Homo sapiens: one gene and its partners. Changing the gene in region 4 together with the main gene of any one other region gives a genetic interaction. Each region holds a gene or a part of one and is shown on either strand. Other genes may lie near its edges. The genes, in order: CAMK2G, CSNK1G2, MMP25 and CYP4F12.

Region 1 (5,251 bases), on a different chromosome or scaffold from region 4:
TGAAGTCCTTTGATCTTTACTTGCAAAGAATGGAGCGGCCTCATTGGTGTGCTGTGTAACACAGGGACAAAAGGCCTGGAGACTCCCTCCACTGCAGTGGCACCTTGGACACATTGCTGAGCCTCTGTTCCCTCCTAAGTATAGAGCTGGGCTTAAACCAGAGAATGTTGGAGTCCCCTTCCCGCTCTAATCTGATGTTCTGGCATTCTAAACATGACTGTTCTGTCTGTCTTTCCAAGTCTTTAAGTTGACACAGGTTCTGGAATAGCCGCAGGGCTTCTCCAACTCTGCCAGTCACAGCTTTAGGTACCACAGAGTATCCCAATTACAGGAGTTGAGTTGAAGACAGAACCAGTGTTGCAGGGTATGAAGCTCACCAATACCACATTCTTCTCCCTATTCCTGCTCCTTAGTTCCCATCACCAGAATGGGACACGGTAACTCCTGAAGCCAAGAACTTGATCAACCAGATGCTGACCATAAACCCAGCAAAGCGCATCACGGCTGACCAGGCTCTCAAGCACCCGTGGGTCTGTGTAAGTGTCTTTGCTAGTGGCCAAGGAGCTCAGGGGTGTCAGCCTTCTGTGTGCCCTCGGCACCACCCCCTCCTTCTTACCAGCAGAGATTCATTCTGGGCCCCAAGCAATAACTGAGCAGGCGGGCAGAGGACTGTTGAGGGCCAGGGTCAATAAATGTCACCAGGGAGACTCGGGAGGCTGATGGGGCTGGTGGGCCACTGCTCCTCTCTCCCCCACTCATGGCTGTCAGGCTGGGATTGGTTCTGTTCTTGGATGAGGGCTCAGGTTGACCCTTGTGGACTCCAGGTAGCCGGTGATAGAAAGCAGCTGGCAAAACCCAAAGTGAATTCCCAAGCTGGGGTTCATACTCAGATCTCAACTCCACTGGAGTGGTGACCAAGATCCAACAAATCAACAGAAGGGGTTTCTGAGTCATTAAAAGCATAAAAGCTGAGGCATAAAGCTTCTGCGCTAAAGTCCTAGGAGAGTCCTCTAGGCTATCAGTGTGGGTTGACGTACTCTGTTTTTATACACAATTCTTTCAAGCTGAAATATCAACTTTCAGACAAAGAAGAGGATTTGGTAGAGTTAGGCATCTTGACAACCACGAGGCATTATTTATCTGTCCATTCTGTGTTTATTAAATACCTCTTTGGTGCTGGTTACCGTCTGGGTGCTGGAGATACAAAGATGAATGAGGCATGGTCCCTGCCCCAAAAGATCATCTAGGGAGACAGGCACTCAAACAGGCAGTCATGTTACAATGTGACAAGTAGGTACAAGAATCTAATGAGAGTACAGGAGCTCCTACTGTTCCTGGTGGGTGGTGGGGTTACTGAAGGCTGCACGGAGGAGGTGACACCCCTGTGCTTGTTCTTGGCAAATAACGAGGTCCTCAGAACGTTAACCTGCAGACAGAGTTTAGCACAGTGAGAGGTTATGGGAAACTATGGTGAGTTGAAGGAATGTTGAGTTGTTTGGTTGTCGATGAGGCTGCAAATATCAGAATGCAAGAGAATGGGGCAAAAGATTCCCTGACATACAAGTTTCTGCCTCAGGAGTTTGGATTTTATTCTGAAAACATAGGGAATCATTTAAGGGTTTTAAAGAAGAATGAAATTTGCATTTAAGAACACTTTGGAAGTTGTGAGGAAATGAATTGCCAGGCATGGTGGCATGTGCCTGTAGTCTCAGCTGCTGGGGATGCTGAGGCAGGAGGATCATAAGCCCAGGAGTTTGAGGCTGCAGCGAGCTATGATTGCACCTGTGAATAGTCATTGTACTCCAGCCTGGGAAAGATGGTCAGACCCCACCTCTTTAAAAAAAAAAAAAAAAAAAGAAGGGAATTGAAAATTTTTAAAAGAAAAGGGCTGGAGACAGAGAGCTCAGGAAGCTTTTTTAATAGTTGGAATAGTCTAAGCAAGACCAGGTGAGGTCTCAGCAGAGGGTAAGGATGGGGGAATGTGCAGTGTGTTGAAATTCAAGAGATATTTGAGAGAACCTAAAGGATTTAATTCTCTCCAGTTGGATTTGGGGGGAGCAAAGAAGAGAGAGGCCAGGTTTCAAGTTGAGCGGAGAGTTGTACCCTCACTGACCCAGAAGAAAACCAGAGGAGGAGCTTGTTTGTGAGACAAGACGATGGTTTTCTCTTTTTTTTTTTTTTTTTGAGATGGAGTCTCGCTCTGTCGCCCAGGCTGGAGTGCAGTGGCGCGGTCTCACTGCAAGCTCTGCCTCCCGGGTTCATGCCATTCTCCTGCCTCAGCCTCCCGAGTAGCTGGGACTACAGGTGCCCGCCACCACGCCCGGCTAATTTTTTGTATTTTTAGTAGAGATGGGGTTTCACCGTGTTAGTCAGGATGGTTTCGATCTCCTGATCTCATGATCCACCCGCCTCGGCTTCCCAAAGTGCTGAGATTACAGGCATGAGCCACTGCGCCCGGCCAAGATGATGGTTTTCATTTTGTGCCTGCTGAGTCTGGCAACCTCCAGCCAGACACATTCAGTGGGTGGTTAGAAATATGGTCCTAGAGATTAGAAAAGAAGCTAAAAATTGGAAATCCACATTGTAGTCATTTCTGTGTAGTTGGTAGTGAGGCTGTAGAAATAGCCTCTTCCTATGCTGTAGATGGGCCTGTTCCTATGCTGGTTGAGTTCTTACGGTGAGCTTCTATTGGCTGTAGTAGAGAAGAGACGGCCACTACACACCAGCATTTAATGATAGGGAGAGTTAGGGGGCCCAGCAAAGAGCACTGAGAGTGAGACCTTCCAGAAGACCCAGAAGCTAAGAAACAGGGGGTCTCAGTAAGGGAGCGTCAGGAATCAGATGCAGAAGAGTCCCTGATTAAGTTGGGGAAGAATCCCCTGGCTCTGACCATTAGATGCCATTGTTTCATCATTTCACTGAGACAGTGGAGAGAAAGATGAAACCCTGTTTTCAGTGAGACGAAGAGGGAGTGAGGGTGAGGAGGGGCATGGGGAGCTAGGCATTGAGGTGGGAAATAAATGGTGATACTTAGATTAAGATGGGCCAGGGGAGCTTTTAATGTAAGGCTCACACCTGTAATCCCAGCACTTTGGGAGACCAAGGCAGGCGATCACTTGAGGCCACGAGTTCAAGACCAGCCTGGCCAACATAGTGAAACTCCATCTCTACTAAAAATACAAAAAATTAGCTGGGTATGTTGGTACACACCTATAATCCCAGCTACTTGGGAGGCTGAGGCATGAGAATCACTAGAACCCAGGAGGTGGAGGTTGCAGTGAGCCAAGATAATGACACTGCATTCCAGCCTGGGTGACAGAGGGAGACTCTGCCTCTAAAGAAGAAAAAATTTCTTTTTAAAGATTATATTGGTCAGGAGCGGTGGCTCACACCTGTAGTCCCAGCACTTTGGGAGACCAGGGTAGGTAGATCACTTGAGCCCGGAAGTTTGAGACCAGCCTGGGCAACATGGCAAAACCCCATCTCTACAAAAAAAAAAACTTTAAAAATTAGCTGGTTGTGGTAACGTGCCTTAGCTACTTGGGAGGCTGAGATGAGAGGATCACCTGAGCCTAGAGAGGTGGAGGTTGCAGTAAGCCATTATTGTGCTACTGCACTCCAGCCTGGGCAACAGAGTGAGATGCTGTTTCAAAAAAAAAAAAAAATTTTTTTGTTTAAGGAGAGGCTTAACTATAATCTATAGAGAAGAATCTAGTCCAGAGGAAAGAGTTGAAGATCCTTGCTAATTGAGGAAGCAAAGGTTTGGACAGCAGAAAAAGAGAGGGGGCTCCTGAGCCAAGGGCAGGGGGTCCATCCCGGGGATGACCATGATCCCCCTGAGACTTCTATTAGTGTGGAGGCAGGTGAAGATCGGCTTGTGAGTGGAAGTCTGAGCTGAAAGGGGTTCTTGCTGATGACCTCTCATTTTGCTTTTGGAGAAATTTACACCGAGGAGGAGGTAAAATGAGAGACTTGGGGAAGGTAGAGAAGGTGGGGAGAGTTGCCTCCGGACCTGGAAAGAGTGGGCCAAGGGTGAGGGAAAGGATGCGAGGAGGCCCCGTAGTGTTGGTGGGCACCTGGCTGCAGGTGCCAGGATTTGTTTTTCTGACAGGCTGGTGAAGACAGCAACAGCAAGGGGAGAGGGCAAGCAACCTGAAACAGGCACCCAAGAATGGGGGAAATATTCTGTTCTGGGGTCATTTTTGCAGGCCCTACCCTCTGCAGTCCCGTGTGTCTCGAGCCCCTGAGGACATCACTATATTCTGAAATTACATAATGATGCTGGTATTGACAGCTGAGTCATTGAGGAAGTGTAGACTGTGTCCCATGGACTCTGTTTAAGGAGGCCAGGAAGTTAGCAGTAAATACATTGAAGACAAATTTCCATCCAAAAAAGGCGGGGCACAGTGGCTCACACCTGTTATCCCAGGACTCTGGGAGGCCGAAGTGAGCAGATCACTTGAGGTCAGGAGTTCGAGACCACCAGCCTGGCCAACATGGCCAACCCTGTCTCTACTAAAAATACAAAAATTAGCTGGGTGTGGTGGGATGTGCCTGTAGTCCCAGCTACTCGGGAGGCCAAGACAGGAGAACCTGAGAGGCGGAGGCTACGGTGAGCCGAGATTGCACCACTGCACTCCAGCCTGACTGACAAAGCGAGACTCCATTGCAAAAAAAAAAAAAAATTACATCCAGAATGATGAAAAGAATTGATGCTTCAAGGTGACGATCCTTAGCTTCTGGGATCATGGCTTCATTCAGGACCTTGCTGGGGGTGTGTGGAGAGGGGCTCTTGGAAGGAAGGAATGTCCTCTGTAGAGAGCAGGAACCCTGCCGTTCTCTCGCTGCTGAGCATCTGGAACGCAGTAGGTGCTCAGTAAACAGCTGCCTAAGGAGTGACTGAATGAGGATCACAGCCCCCAGGGTACTCTCCTGTTCGGTAGCCTCTGTTTCCCAAGGAAGAATAGGACGGTCTCTCAGCAGCCCGTCTAGCATCCGTTATGGTGTTCTCACGTTCATGTTGTCCTTATGTAACCTTGAGTTTCGGGTAGTGCTTTTATTCTAAAAGCGTTTTCACATCTGTGACCTCATTTCATCTTCAGAGCAACTCTGGGGTGGCTGAGTGCATGACCCTGTCCTGGGCATGGTATCGGTGCCAGGACTGTGGGAGGCGCAGAGGATCTGGGCTGGGGCTCATAGCCTGTCTGTTTGGTTTCTAGCAACGATCCACGGTGGCATCCATGATGCATCG
Region 2 (5,251 bases), about 14 Mb from region 4:
TTTCTTCTCCTCCTTTTTAATAATACAGTAATTACTCTGGGCTACAAAGGAAGTAGGCGAGGGTTTTTTTAATTGAAAGTTCCTGTTGCTCATCCCAAGCTTAGGGGAAGCCAGTATGCCAGCCATTAATTTGGGGATTGGGGTAGTCCTGTTGGTGTGCCAGGCACGGTTGGGAGGGGGGGCACTGTGTCTTTTGGAACTGGTGGGGGTTACCGCGCGCCCGAGTGGCAGACTCTAGCGCCCCAGCAGATGCGTCCGCAGAGCCACTGGGACGGACGGAAGCTGAGCTTAGGGACAGCCGGAGTTGCTTGCCCTGGGGCATCTGGAGAGGGGGATCCTGTTGAGCGTTTGATGTTGCCTCCTTTCTGCACCCCCCACCGAGCTGCCCCAGGCCCCCAGGGGCTCATGGTCCGTCAAGGCCTTGACCGAGGCCTGGCGGAGGGCGGGTGGTGGATGGAGGCAGCGCTGTGGGTGCTGTTGGGGCCGAGTGCCGGGCACAGCCTGGCAGGGGCTGCGGGCCTCGGGTGGCAGTGGGCAGGCCAGCATGTGGGGCTGGCTGACTTTCTCTGAACCCAGAGGGGACACAGGGCCCATGTGAAGGAGGCCTGGCCCGAGTCCTGGTTAGGGTTGCGGTGGTGGCGGGCAGCTGTGGGCTTCGTCCTCAGGTCAGCCTCAAGTCCTGTGTCCAGCTAGGGCTCGGTGGCCGTGCGCGTGTTGGGTCGAGCTCTGGTGTCAGGCGTGCCGGGTCCGCCTCCCCCATCCCGCGGATCTGCAGATCTGCAAATGCTCCGCCGGCAGCCACACGAGAGAACCTGTTGGTTGGCGGCCTCTGTGCAAGGCCGTCTGAGTGAGGCCTGCAGTCTGGAGGCTCCCTAGGTCGGGAGGCTCCGCGTCTGCTTCTTCCTCATTCTGGAGTTCTCGTGGGGCCCGTGCTGTGGGGCTTCCTGGGAAGTGGGTGGAGCGCCCATTTTACAGATGAGGAAGTCGAGGCCTACCTGGCCTGCTTGGGTAGAGGAGAAGGTGGTGTTTCCCGAGGGCTGACTCCCACACCTGTGCTTCTCTGGTCACCCGCCGTGCCAGTGGGAGCAGTGACAGCGAGGGGTGGTGGCCCTGCGGCCAGGGGACGGGCCTCACCGCCTTCCCCATCCTCTCTGCTGGCTCTGTCCAGAGGGCTGTGCCGCCCTGTGACTGGCACGTGGGTGCAGCCGTCTGCTGGGTGGGTCTGTCCGGGAGCTTGACTGGCCTGGCTGGGTGGGGGGGGGTACCCCTTTGTGCTACCTCAGCGAGGGCTCAAAGTGAGGGTCTGGGACCACCAGAACGGTGTATTCAATGCACTGCGGGCAGCCCTGCAGCGGGCAGGGATTGAGTGAGGGGTGGGGCCTGCCTGGCTCCTGGCAAGCACCCGTCTGGCGGGCGGGGCCCAGTGAGCCTCCTCCCTTTGCCGGGTCCTCCTGTAGTGGGGCAGGAACCTCTAGCATCCCACCCTTGCTGCCCTTTTTCTGCCCCGCTCACCACCCACATCAACTTGTCACCAGCAAGGGCATGGGACAAAGCAGGACATGCCCCGGGTGGCCAGCGTGAGCTAGCTGTGCCCAGGAGCATTGCCCATGCTGTCCCCCAGGCACTGTCCTGAAGCCCTGCTGGGTTCTGAGTCCTCCAGGCTCCGCGGCCCCTTCTCGCCCTGCCCAGAGTCTCTGGCCACCACCGCTGCTTGGGGCCCTGCACCAGCCTGTGCGCCCGCAAGGTTGCCAGGGCCCCTCTGCAGGTGCAGCGTGAGCTGTGTCCTGGGCCCACAGGGGAGCCGCTTCTCAGACCCCCGGGCTGGCCCCAGGCTCCCCCGGCAGCACTCAGGCGGCCCTGGCCCCCGGTGCGGCTGACTGTTCGGGGCACGCGTCTGAGGTGTGGGGATCATCTCCCCCTTGCTCAGAGCCCCCAACGTGTCCCCTGCACAGGGAATCGGGGCAGCCCCCTGCCAGCCCTGCCCAGGGATCCCTCCTGTCACCCTCAGGCGTGCTCCTGGGTGGCCCAGCGGCCTCCCTGCACCGTGAGGCCCGAGACAGTTTCGCGTGACATCATGTTGAAAACAGCCAGCTCTGGCCGGGCGCGGGGGCTCCCACCTGTCATCCCAGCACTTTGGGAGGCCGAGGTGGGCGGATCACCTGAGGTCAGGAGTTCAAGACTAGTCTGGCCAACATGGCAAAACCCCATCTCCACTAAAAATACAAAAATTAGCCGGGCGTGGTGGCGTGCGCCCATAATCCCAGCTACTCGAGAGGCTGAGGCAGGAGAATCACTTGAACCCGGGAGGTGGAGGTTTTAGTGAGCCAGGATCGCGCCACTGCACTCCAGCCTGGGCAACAGAGCGAGACTCCGTCTCAAAAAAAAAAAAAAAAAAAGCTGGTTCTCCCTTGATGCGCATCTGCTGAACTTCTGGGGCACGCTGGGGTAGAGCAGTGGGTCCCTCCCTGGAGAGGCCATGGGGTGAGGACCGAAGCTGTGGGTGCCAAGTGGGGCAGGCAGCCCAGTGGAGTGGGGCAAGAGACTCTGGTCTGGCCGGCCTGACCCGTGGGGTATGACTCTTGTTACGGCAGATTCCATCTAGGAGCGGAGGCCACGCGTATGTTCCCGGGAGAGGTGGGAAGTGCATCCCGTGGCCTATCCCGGGGAGGTCACTCCCATTCCATACCTGCAGGGGGAGCTAGCTGCCTCACGTCTGTGTCTCAGGCCGCGCAGAGGAGGGGGCGCAGGTGAGGGCAGCGGGAAGAAAGACTGCAAGAGGCTCGGGGGTCACGGGCCAGGGCTGGCCCATCACTATTTATTCGTTTATTTATTTATTTATTTATTTTTTATTTATTTATTTTTTTTAAGATGGAGTCTTGCACTGTTGCCCAGGCTGGAGTGCAGTGGCCCGATCTCAGCTCACTGCAAGCTCCGCCTCTTGGGTTCACGCCATTCTCCTGCCTCAGCTTCCCGAGTAGCTGGGACTACAGGCGACCGCCACCACGCCTGGCTAGTTTTTTGTACTTTTAGTAGAGACGGGGTTTCACCGTGTTAGCCAGGATGGTCTCGATCTCCTGACCTCGTGATCTGCCCGCCTCGGCCTCCCAAAGTGCTGGGATTACAGGCGTGAGCCACCGCGCCCGGCTATTTATTTATTTATTTATTATTATTATTATTATTTTCTTTGAGATGGAGTCTCGCTCTGTTGCCCAGGCTAGAGTGCAGTGGCGCAATCTTGGCTCACTGCAAGCTCCGCCTCCCGGGTTCACGCCATTCTCCTGCCTCAGCCTCTCCAGCAGCTGGGACTACAGGTACATGCCATCACGCCTGGCTAATTTTTGTATTTTTAGTACAGACGGGGTTTCACTGTGTTAGCCAGGATGGTCTCCATCTCCTGACCTTGTGATCTGCCCGCCTCGGCCTCTCAAAGTGCTGGGATTACAGGCATGAGCCACTGTGCCCGGCCTATTCATTTATTTATTTAGAGACAGAGTCTCGCTCTGTTGTCCATGTTGGCCAAGCTGGTCTTGAACTCCTGACCTCAGGTGATCCACCTGCTTCAGCCTCCCTCATAGCTGGGATTACAGGCGTGAGCCACCGTGCCCGGCCCTATCGCTATTTAAAAGGCAGAGAAAATCTTAGAGGTTTTTTTATTGTCACCAGCGGTGTTTCGTTGATGCGTAATTGCCTTTGGAGGCTTGAAAAAAGTTGTGCTTAAAGGTAATCCCTCAATTATCTGGAAACTTCCACCCTCCAGAGTGAGGCACCCCAAGTCCTGGTCTGGATTCGTGGACAGAGTCCCTGCCTGTGAGGCCTGATGGCCAGTCCTCTCGCCTTGGCCGTGGTGCTTCAGGCCCTGTTGCAGGTGGGACCCGCCCTCCTTAGGGACCTTGTTTCCCAGGTGATGCTCATGTAATCTGCGGTGACCTCTGCCCCTTCCCATCTGACCTCTGTCCCCAGGAAAGATGGCAGGCGTGCGAGGGCTCATCCTGTCCGCGGCAGTTGTGCCCCTCGGGCTTCTGCTCCAGTGGTCCTGGGGCAGGGCAGCTGGCGCTGATGCCCAGGCTCTGCCTGGGGACAGTTCCCAGGACGGGAGCCTGAGGGCAGCGCACGGGACCAGCGTGAGGACACGGACTGGCCCGTGTCTGCCTCTGACTTGCTGGGTGTGCCTTTGAGTTCCTCTGAGGGTGGGTGCGCCGAGGGGGATCCAGCTGGGCCCTGGCCACGTGCAGGCCAGCCAGAGCCCTGGAGCCTGCAGGTGGGCTGGGACAGGGCTTGCGACCGCAGGGGTGGTGTGCGTTTGCGCTGGCGTCTGCACAGGTGTGTGCGTGCTGTGCCATCACGCTGGTCAGGCCTGTACGCCGTGGAGAGGGGCGCTGTGTGGGGCTCGCTGCCTGAGCCCTGGGTGGACCGTGGCTGCCCCATGAGTTGTCGGGGACCTCCGCTGCCCCTTGGACCTCGCCCGCGGCCCTGGGCAATGGGTGTGGTGACGTCCTGGGGCCCCCATGAGTCAGCTCGTCCTCGTGCCCGGGCACTGGCCTCTCCTTCCTGTGGGCGCACAGCCCCGGTTCCTCTGAAAGCTTCGTGGGCCGGGACCCGGGATGAGCTGGTTAAACCCTGGCCCTGTGAGCAGGAGGTGTGGCTTCGGGGGGCGGCCCCGCCCTGGGCTCAGACTTGATCCTGCACCGGAGGGAGCCATTCTGGAAGGCCGCTGCCCCGGGCCCTGTCCCTCCCCCTCTCATCCCCAGGGTGCTGGCCAGAGCCGGGCTCACAGCGTTTCTTAAAATTAACGATCCCGGCCGGGCGTGGTGGCTCACGCCTGTAATCCCAGCACTTTGGGAGGCCGAGGCGGGTGGATCACGAGGTCAGGAGATCGAGACCATCCTGGCTAACACAGTGAAACCCCGTCTCTACTAAAAAGACAAAAAATTAGCCGGGCGCGGTGGCAGGCGCCTGTACTCCCAGCTACTCGGGAGGCTGAGGGAGGAGAATGGCATGAACCCGGGAGGCGAAGCTTACAGTGAGCTGAGACCGCGCCATTGCACTCCATGTGGGCGACAGAGTGAGACTCCGTCTCAAAAAAAAAAAAAAAAAACGCAAAAAAAAAAAAGATCCCGTCACACTGACCCAGCTCACTGTTCTCTTACCAGCCTTATTTCGGTGTGGTCCTTAGAGCATGAGCCACTTTTTTTTGCTGGGAACATAATCCACGTTTGGTAAAATTCGGCAACGTGTGCACGCAAGTGGTTTT
Region 3 (4,084 bases), on a different chromosome or scaffold from region 4:
GATGGATGGACGGACGGATGCATGGCCAGAGGCAGAGATGGATGGGTGGGTAGATTGGACGGACAGATGATGGTAGGTTGTTCTTGTCCTGGAGGAGGTGATCCAGGCTGAGTCCTCACACTGGGCAGAGCAAGAGGCAGGAGGTGAGCATGGGGAGATGCAGCTGTGTGCCCCAGTGCACCGGAAGTTACAGATGACATCGATGTCCTGTCCTGATGAAACAGGAAACACATTTGTCATTTGAGAGTTAGTGGCTGGGGCTGGGTGGAAGCTTGAGGGGCTGTGGGCCTGGAATGGGGCTGAGGGGAGCGTGCAGGAGCTGCCTGCCAAAGCCTGGAGCAAGGATGACAGGAGGTGCCGGGGCCCCTGTGGACTGCCCTCTGGGAATCTTGTGGGGCTGGGTCTGCACAGCTGTGGTTGTGTAACTTCCCCCAGATGCATGGCGTGACAAGGGTGCAGGAAGGGGTGCAGGGCCCGGAAGCCCAGTATGGCCAAGGAGAGACAAGGCAGGGAAGAAGGTGAGAGATGAAAGATATCGCCCTGATTGAAACACCAAACTACCCCCAGTTTCTCAGAAAAAGGACTCAGAGCAACAAGAGAACCTACAGTCGACAGGGAAATTCGTCAGTGCGGATGTGATTTGAGCAAGACCATTGAAGCCCCTGCTGAAAGGCAGGCTGGCAGAGCCAGGGTACCTGGCCATCTACCTTGAAGTCTCTGTGCCTCAGTTTCCTCCTCTGTAAAATGGGCATAGGAGACAGGTTTGGTGAGAAGTGAACGAAAACGTGTTTGCTACCCCTCTTAGGTCTCACGTTTCATGCTTAGACGCTCAGCGAGTGGCTTTAGGGACCGAGAGAAATTTGCTTTTCAGTTCACCAGGTCGTTACCTATGAACCTGCCCTGAACAGTGCTGACCTTAGTTAGAGATGGCCATGAAACTCATCCGCATGGGGTAACTGGGGCCTCCCTGTGGTGCTGCGGGGCTGTGTCTCTGTCTTGGTCTCTTCAGGCCTCTCAGCAGCTGGAGCAGGAGCTGGCAGGCGGCTCACCGGTTGATGAGGAGCTGGGCTTCAGCCGGGGCTGGCGTGTGAATCCTCTGGGTCCTGGCAGTCCTGAGCGCCTGAGCTGAATACAGAGGGAAGAGGCTGGGAGCAAGGCCGGGTGCTGGGGCCGGCAGGCTGTGTTCTGAGAGTGCCTGCTAGAGGAGCTCTGTGTTCCCAAGGAGATGGAGGAAGACCTGGGGTGGGGGTGGTACAGGGTAGGGAGAGGAGGGGCAGAGGCTGTGAACAGGGAGATGGGGGAGGGGGGATGGAGGACTCAAGGGATGTAAGGGATATGGCTTGAGGAGGGATGGGGGCAGGAATGAGGGAAGGTCTTGGGTCAAGGACATGGACCTACATCCCCAGCAGATGGGGGTGGCAAGGGGGAGACGGGTGGGGGTCGCTGACTATAGACTGTAGCTGGGAGGAGGGGATGCTCCCAGGGCTGGGGCTGCCTGAAGAGAATGGCACGCACCTTGTAGGCTCCTGCCCTCACCCCACCGCCCTCTTAAGTTTCTTTTATTTTCTTTTTCTTTTTTTTTCTTTTTACTTTTTTTGAGACGGGGCCTTATTCTGTCCTCCAGGCTGGAGTGCAATGACATGGTCATGCGTCACTGCAGCCTCCACCTCCCGGGCTCCAGCGATTCTCCTGCCTCCCTGCCTCAGCCTGGGACCTGAGTAGCTGGGACCACAGGCATGCGCCACCACTCCTGGCCAATTTTTAAAATTTTTTTGTAGAGATGGGGATCTCCTTATGTTGTCCAGGCCAGTCTTGAACTCTTGGGCTCAAGCGATCCTCCCACCTGGGACTCCAAAAGTGCTGGGTTTACAGGCATGAGCCACCACACCCAGCTCCTCCCCCTCAAACTTCTGTGCACAAAGTGCTCCCTTCCCAGAGGAGGGGCCCCATCGGTGTGTAAGGTGGCCTATTCCTCTGTGTGTTCTCTGGATCTTTTCAGCCCTGTGGTCCAGTGTCCATCACAGCCATGCTGACTGAGTGACTGGAGACAGGGATGATGGAGAGTTCAGGAAGGGCTGGGCAGAGGAGGCTGGGGCCACCTCTGGAGGGTGTCCTGCTGTTCCTGTTGGCCCCAGCTGCACTCGCAGGGCCTTCCTGTGGCCCCTTTCCCCAAGCAGGGGCGGCCGCAGCTCTCACCCACTTTCTCCTGCAGACGGCGAGGGGACCGACCTGTTTGCCGTGGCTGTCCATGAGTTTGGCCACGCCCTGGGCCTGGGCCACTCCTCAGCCCCCAACTCCATTATGAGGCCCTTCTACCAGGGTCCGGTGGGCGACCCTGACAAGTACCGCCTGTCTCAGGATGACCGCGATGGCCTGCAGCAACTCTATGGTAGGGGGAGAGGGACCTGCCGCGAAACCATCATTGCCCCATCCAGTGTCCTCTGCAGCAGGGCCAGGGGACGCACACCTGCCTGACTCTTTCCTCACAGGGAAGGCGCCCCAAACCCCATATGACAAGCCCACAAGGAAACCCCTGGCTCCTCCGCCCCAGCCCCCGGCCTCGCCCACACACAGGTGAGTCCCCCACCAACTCGGAGACCTTGGGTGACCAGCTGCCCAGCCTCAGTGTCCTCTGAGATGGGGATGGTGGGGGTCCCTGCCTTGGAGAAAACAAACCCCCCTCTCTACTCACCTCTCCTTTCCTCCCCAGCCCATCCTTCCCCATCCCTGATCGATGTGAGGGCAATTTTGACGCCATCGCCAACATCCGAGGGGAAACTTTCTTCTTCAAAGGTGAGTCATTTCACTTGGCCTCATATATGTTGGTTTCCTGCCCACTTCCAGTGACCCACTGGGGCTGTGGGCTTACCCTGGAAGCGGAACTTTTTTCTTCTTTGAGACAGGGTCTTGCTTTGTTGCCTGGGCCGCAGTGCAGTGGTGTGATCATGGCTCACTGCAGCCTCAAAATACTGGGCTCAAGCGATCCTCCCACCTCAGCCTCCCTGGTAGCTGGGACCACAGGCACATGCCACCACGCCTTGCTAGTAATTTATTTTATTATTTTGTAGAGATGGAGTCTCACTATATTGCCCAGGCTGGGCTCAATCTCCTGGCTCAGGTGATTCTCCGGTGTCAGCCTCCCAATGTGCTGGCATTACAGGTCTGAGCCACCAGGCAAGGCCCTGGCACTTTTAGCGCTAAAAAGGGAAAAGTCTCAGGCGGGCCAGGATGGGCTGGTCACCCTAGATCCATTGCGCCCTTGATTTCCAGATGGGACCCCTCCCCACCCAGCCACACACCCTGGGGGAGGAGACCTCCTGCTGTCTCATGCCTTCCTGCGAACCCCTTTGTCCCCTGCAGGCCCCTGGTTCTGGCGCCTCCAGCCCTCCGGACAGCTGGTGTCCCCGCGACCCGCACGGCTGCACCGCTTCTGGGAGGGGCTGCCCGCCCAGGTGAGGGTGGTGCAGGCCGCCTATGCTCGGCACCGAGACGGCCGAATCCTCCTCTTTAGCGGTGAGTGGGGCCGGCGGCGGGGCGCGCTGGGGCCGGCGCGGGGAGCCCACCCCTGACCTCCCGGCCTCCACCCTGCAGGGCCCCAGTTCTGGGTGTTCCAGGACCGGCAGCTGGAGGGCGGGGCGCGGCCGCTCACGGAGCTGGGGCTGCCCCCGGGAGAGGAGGTGGACGCCGTGTTCTCGTGGCCACAGAACGGGAAGACCTACCTGGTCCGCGGCCGGCAGTACTGGCGCTACGACGAGGCGGCGGCGCGCCCGGACCCCGGCTACCCTCGCGACCTGAGCCTCTGGGAAGGCGCGCCCCCCTCCCCTGACGATGTCACCGTCAGCAACGCAGGTGGGGAGCGCGGTGACCTGCGGGTTACTGGGCCTGGGGGTGGGGAGAGGGATGTGGGGAATGGGGACATGGAGGCCACCCTGCGGGGATGGGGGTCCTTGGGCATCAGGGAGCGGCGGGGCGGGGAGGGACCGGGACTCAAGCTCTGCTCCTCCAGGTGACACCTACTTCTTCAAGGGCGCCCACTACTGGCGCTTCCCCAAGAACAGCATCAAGACCGAGCCGGACGCCCCCC
Region 4 (5,782 bases):
TGAGTGAGTGGGTAAAGGAATGAATGAGTGAGGAGAGAAATGAGTGAGTGAGGAGGGGAATGAGTGAGTGAGGAGAGGAATGAGTGAGTGAGGAATGAGTTGAGTGAGGAGAGGAATGACTAAGTGAGCAGAGGAATGAGTGAGTGAGGAGAGGAATGAGTGAATGGATAGAGGAATGAGTAAGTGAGGAGAGGAATGAGTGAGTTGGTATTGGAATTAGTGAGGAGAGGAATGAGTGTGGGTAGAGGAATGAGTGAGTGAGGATATGAATGAGTGAGTGGGCAGAGGAATGAGTGGGTGAGGAGAGGAATGAATGAGTGAGAAAAGGAATGAGTGAGTGAGGACAGGAATGACTGAATGAGGAGAGGAATGAGTGAGTGAGGAGAGGAATGAGTGAATGGGCACAGGAATGAGTGAGTGAGGAGAGGAATGAGTGAGTGAGGAGAGGAATGAGTGAGTTGGTATTAGAATGAGTGAGTGAGGAGAGGAATGAGTGAATGGGCACAGGAATGAGTAAGTGAGGAGAGGAATGAGTGAGCCGTCTCCCTTGGTTCTCTGGGTTCCCAGACCCCAGCCACCATCAATACACAGCTCCCTGAACCCCTACTGGAAGTCCCACCCCTCTGGAAGTCCACCCACCCTGAGACGCCAGACCCCATCCAATCCATTGAGGGCATGAACAGGACAAAAGGCAGAGGAAAGGAAGAACTTGCTCTCTCTTCTGCTGCTGGGATATCCGTCTTCTCCTGCCCTCAGAACTCCAGGGACTCAGGCCTTTCTGGACTCAGGCTGAATTTACACCACCAGTGTCCCTGGTTTCTGGCTTGCAGATGATATATCATGGGACTTCTTGGCCTCCATCATCACATTATCCAATTCCCATAATAAATTCTTATCTCTCTATCTCTTTCTGTCTCCATACATACATGCATTAGAGATAAGAAGAAACACCCTATCTGTTTCTAAGGAGATTCCGTTTCTAGGGAGAACCCTGACTAATGCACCTCCCTAGATGAAGCCACAGCAAGTCCCCCCACAGCCACCGGATGTGGTGCAGCCTCTGCAGTGAGCAGCGTGTCTGGATTCTCAGCAGCTGCAGTGGGTTTCTGCTGACTTCTGCTCCTTCTCTCTTGGAGCTGTCCCCAAGATCCAAGGGTAAATACCAAAGCAGAGAGAGAAGACAAGCTGTCTGCTCAAGAGGATGTGTTTTCTCATCCTGGATTGATTTCAATCTGGGGATTGCTATATGGGAAGGTCCCCATGGAAGGAGGTTTGTGGGCAGCAGTGTGGCCTCAGGACATATCCCTAGAGCTGGTTGCCATATCCTTTTGTGTCCTGGTTGGTCCACATGGGCACTGGTTCCTCCCACAGACAAAGGGCCTGCGTCCTGAGGGCCCTCCATTCTCAGCAGCCTCCAGGGGAGCAGAGGTGACTCTAATGTCCATCAGGATGGCAGCTCCCACCTAGGAGAGCCTCACTTATGCCAGGTTCTGTGCTAGTGCCTCCTGTGCACCTGTGGACACACCGATCAATCCTGCCTTTTGTAAGTGAGCAGACAGAGGCCACATCCCCCAAAGGGGAGGGCCGGTCCCAGTCGGAGGGAAAGGTTTGGGAGTACCAAGGACGGCTTCTGAAAGGGGAAGGGAGTGGCCAAATTATATCCAGGTTGGGCTACAGGGCTCACTGGGACATCTTACTGGGGAAGAGCACATTGTCCCTGGAAGGAGAGGGTGTGGGAGACTGCCTGCACTTCTCTTCTGGTCCAGCTGTGTCCCTCCGTGGGGAAGGAAGTCAGAGATAATTCCTGCGGGAAAGCAGCAGCCCAGAGATGGGCAGATACAAGCAAATGGGCCATGCAGGGAGCAGCCTGTCTATCGGGGCTCAGAAGGCTTCAAGTCCAGCAGTGGAGAAGGTGGGAATGCCAGGAGAGCCCTGCTCTGTGCACCCCACAACCATACAGGAGCCTCTGGGAGGGGCACTACGGTAGGGAAGACAGGCAGGAAAAGGATCCAAGCAGGCTGAGGTGGGAGGACAGGGAGGTGAGAAAGGTTTGGCATGGAACTGCAGAGGAATGAATGAATGAGGAAAGGAATGAGTCGGTGGGTAGAGGAATCAGTGAATGAGGAGAGGAATGAGTGAGTGAGGAGAGGAATGAGTGAGTGGGGAGAGCAAAAAGTGAGTGGATAGAGGAATAAGTGAATGGGTAGAGGAATGAGTGAGTGGGCAGAGGAATGAGTGAGTGATGAGGGGAAGGAGTGAATGAGGAGAGGAATGAGTGAGCAGAGGAATGAGTGAGTGAGCAGACGAATAAGAGTGAGGAGAGGAATGAGTGAGTGAGGAGAGGAATGAGTGAATGAGAGGAATGCGCGAATGAGAGGAATGCGCGAGTGAGGAGAGGAATGAGTGAGTGAGGAGAGGAATGAGTGAGTGGGTAGAGGAATGAGTGAGTGAGGAGAGGAATGAGTGAGTGGGTAGAGGAATGAGTGAGTGAGGAGAGGAATGAGTGAGGAGGGGAATGAGTGAGTGAGGAGAGGAATGAGTGAGTGAGGAGGGCAATGTGTGAGTGGGTAGAGGAGTGAGTGAGTGGGTAGAGGATTGAGTGAGTGGGTAGAGGAGTGAGTGAGTGGGTAGAGGAATGAGTGAGTGAGGAGAGGAATGAGTGAGTGAGGAGAGGAATGAGTGAGTGAGGAGAGGAGTGAGTGAGTGAGGAAAGGAGTGAGTGAGTGGGTAGAGGAATGAGTGAGTGAGGAGAGGAATGAGTGAGTGAGGAGAGGAGTGAGTGAGTGGGTAGAGGAGTGAGTGAGTGGGTAGAGGAGTGAGTGGGTAGAGGAATGAGTGAGTGGGTAGAGGAATGAGTGAGTGGGTAGAGGAGTGAGTGAGTGGGTAGAGGAGTGAGTGAGTGGGTAGAGGAGTGAGTGGGTAGAGGAATGAGTGAGTTAGCAGAGGAATGAGTGAGCCATCTCTCTTGCTTCTCTGGGGTCGCAGACCCCAGCCACCATCAATACCTAGCTCACTGAGCCCCATTCCTGCTCCTCTGGAAGTCCATCCACCCTGAGACCCCAGACACATTTTGCTGTCACACTCACCAGGCCCAGGTGACCCCAAAACCAGTTCCGTTTTGGGGGCTGTGGGAAACACTGGAGCCGGCGGCAGTTGTTATAGAAGGCATAGGTCCAAGCCAGGATGCGGGCGAGTAGCCAGGAGCCCACAACCAGCAGCAGGAGTAGCCATGGGGACGTTGCCACCGGTCTGAGGCCCAGCCAGGGCAGGCTCAGCAGCGACATCCTGCAGGGCAGAGGGGATGCAGGGTGAGGACCTGAGGCCCAGGGAAGAGCTCCGGGGACAGTGTATAGGGGCGAAGTCAGGAACTGCTGGGGGCAGGGCAGGGAGGGCTCAGGGGTGAGTAAACGAGGGCTGAGATCTGAAGTCCAGAAAGTCCCAACCAAAACCAACAACTAAGTGGCCTCCAGTAACCTGGTAACCACACAGAAAGGGAAAGAGATGGGCCGATTAGAGTCCAGAAGGGCCCCACCTGAATCCTTGGGAGTTTGCTAGGAGTCCAGTTACCAGGAAACCCCCAGTTTCCCATGCCAGCATCTTGGAGCCACCCCAGCCTTAGGCAGTCCCCTCTTCATCCCAGGCCAGGACCTTCCAGCCCTGCCACCCCCAGCCTGGTACCTTCTGTCGGGAGCAGCTTGTCCCACACAACCTCTTCTCCTCTTCTGCTGGGAGGTCTTTGGCCCTGGCCCCTGATCTAGGGAAGGCCGTAGGAGGCGGGGCTGGGCTGGGCTGGGCTGAGGCAGCCAATCCCCACAGCCTGGGTGTGTCTTCCGTGCCTGGGCAGCCAGCCAAAACCTGGGGTTGGGCCCACTGGGTGCAGCTCAGGGTGCCCCAGCACGAGCACTGAATTCTCAGGTCTCAGTACCTTCTTGGGAGTTTGCAGGGGAAGTTGGAGGGTGGTTAGAGGGGACTCTGAACCCCAAGTTTACCTCCACCCTGCCCTTCCAAGACAAGGGTGTTCAGATAAAAGCATATACTTATCATGACAGTTGGCAGCCAGCTGAGCTGGGCCAGGCCAACCCTTGTCCCAGATCATCTGGGCTCCTCTCCAAACATGGGCGGGGAGGATGTCAGGCACTACATCTTGGTGCAGACTTAGGAGATTCAGAGACAGAAGCCTCTCATCTCTGGCTTCACAGCCTGGCAAGAGTTCAAGTCCTGCCTCCTGGCAGCCCAGGGCCTGAGTTGAGGCCTGACTGCTTGAAGCAGGAAGAAAGAATCCAGCCCCAACCCCGCTGAGGATTACCTTCGTCAGATTCTGGGGATAAAGAGCCCAGCTGGAGGAGCAAACCTAGAAGCTGGGCTCAGCTTAGGAGGACAGAGCGGAGGCACAGGGGATGAGGCTGAGAGGGGCCTTGAGCTGACGGGGTCCAGGCAGGGGAGGGCAGAGCAAGGGGATCCCGAGTGGAGTCCTTGTTCTGCCCTGTCCTTTCTCTGACTGTGGGCAGTGTGGCCATCCTGGGCTCAGGCTTCCCATCTGGGAAATGGGATGTCAGATGAGGCCTTAGAGGGCGACGGAGGAAGGCTCCTAAGAAAAGGGAGCTCCAAAAAGAGGGACTGAAGGGAAGGGGATGACAACTAGCACTTGAGCTGCTGTGTGCCTGTCTCTACTCCATGCGAAAGACTGTACGGAAAGCACTACTGTGTGCACCTACTGTGTGCCAGTTTCACTATATAAAGTGCACTTACTGTGTATCAGATACTGTACATAAATTCTGTCTACTATGTGCCAGGTATGCCACATAAAGCTCACCTACTGTGTGCAGCATGCTGTACATAATGTAAGCTTACTTTATGCAGAGTACTTCATATAAAGCGTGCCTACTCTGTGCCATGTGCTGTATATAAAGCATACCTACTGTGTGTCAGGTGCTCCACATTGAGCATGTGTACTACGTACCTGGTGACCCACAGAAAGCGCACCTACTCTGCATCAAGTAATCTACATAAATCTTGTCTACTGTGTGCTGGCTATTCTACATATAGTGCACCTACTGTGTGCCAGGAGCTCCACATAAATACTGTCTACTGTATGCTGGGAGCCCTTCACAAATCCTGTATCTTGAGTCCCTGGCCCTTTATATAAACCATGCTTGCTGTGTGCCAGGTGCTCTAAATAAAGCACACCTACTGTGTGCCAGATGTTCCACATAAAATGCTTCTCCCGTGTGTTAGGTCCCCTACATAAAGTAAAACTACTCGGTGCAACATACTTGACATAAAGCACACATACTGTGTGCCAGGTACACTATATAAAGTGTGCCTTATTGTGTGCCAGATATGCTACATAAAGAGCACCTACTGTGTGCCAGGTATGCCGCATAAAGTGTACCTACTATGTGCTAGGTACGCCACATAAAGTACACCTACTGTGTGCCAGGTGCTCTACATAAGGTGCACCTACTATGTGCCAGGTGCTCTATATAACGTGCACCTGCTTGTATCAGATGCTCACCTGCATCACAGTGCCCAAAGCTGTCCCACCACCCTCCCAACAGCTCCCTAGGCCAGAACCCTGGGCATTGTTGAAGAGACCTGAGTGATGGCATCCAGAGGAGAGAAGGTGTCCATTTAACACAAAAGCAAACTGAGGCTCAGAGAGGGCAGGCCTCTAGTCCAAGTTGCAGAGCTCATAGGAACTCAAGACTATGAGACCCTCAAGTCCAAATCCGTTCCCTCTGCCATGCTGCTCCACCCCCATTCTTTAGTGTCAATGCCATAT

Evidence for each region.
Region 1: changes in CYP4F12 (region 4) and CAMK2G together harm fitness more than expected from each alone (negative genetic interaction), as found in Homo sapiens cells (one large-scale study listed by BioGRID).
Region 2: changes in CYP4F12 (region 4) and CSNK1G2 together harm fitness more than expected from each alone (negative genetic interaction), as found in Homo sapiens cells (one large-scale study listed by BioGRID).
Region 3: changes in CYP4F12 (region 4) and MMP25 together harm fitness more than expected from each alone (negative genetic interaction), as found in Homo sapiens cells (one large-scale study listed by BioGRID).

Annotation. Positions count from the first base shown.
Region 1 is NC_000010.11:73,842,510-73,847,760, reverse strand, and holds part of CAMK2G (calcium/calmodulin-dependent protein kinase type II subunit gamma), read left to right. Parts: exon of another isoform or gene 1-413; coding exon 414-536; intron 537-5,219; coding exon 5,220-5,251.
Region 2 is NC_000019.10:1,943,445-1,948,695, forward strand, and holds part of CSNK1G2 (casein kinase I), read left to right. Parts: intron 1-5,251. UniProt on the Homo sapiens protein: Serine/threonine-protein kinase. Casein kinases are operationally defined by their preferential utilization of acidic proteins such as caseins as substrates. It can phosphorylate a large number of proteins. Participates in Wnt signaling.
Region 3 is NC_000016.10:3,054,821-3,058,904, forward strand, and holds part of MMP25 (matrix metalloproteinase-25 preproprotein), read left to right. Parts: exon of another isoform or gene 1-212; intron 213-235; exon of another isoform or gene 236-354; intron 355-435; coding exon of another isoform or gene 436-518; intron 519-915; exon of another isoform or gene 916-1,009; coding exon of another isoform or gene 1,010-1,129; intron 1,130-2,212; coding exon 2,213-2,389; exon of another isoform or gene 2,390-2,489; coding exon 2,490-2,574; exon of another isoform or gene 2,575-2,710; coding exon 2,711-2,793; exon of another isoform or gene 2,794-3,360; coding exon 3,361-3,513; exon of another isoform or gene 3,514-3,591; coding exon 3,592-3,849; exon of another isoform or gene 3,850-3,882; intron 3,883-4,006; coding exon 4,007-4,084. UniProt on the Homo sapiens protein: May activate progelatinase A.
Region 4 is NC_000019.10:15,671,032-15,676,813, reverse strand, and holds the start of CYP4F12 (cytochrome P450 4F12), read right to left. Parts: upstream 3,728-5,782; 5' UTR 3,679-3,727; intron 3,286-3,678; 5' UTR 3,285-3,285; coding exon 3,087-3,284; intron 1-3,086. UniProt on the Homo sapiens protein: A cytochrome P450 monooxygenase involved in the metabolism of endogenous polyunsaturated fatty acids (PUFAs).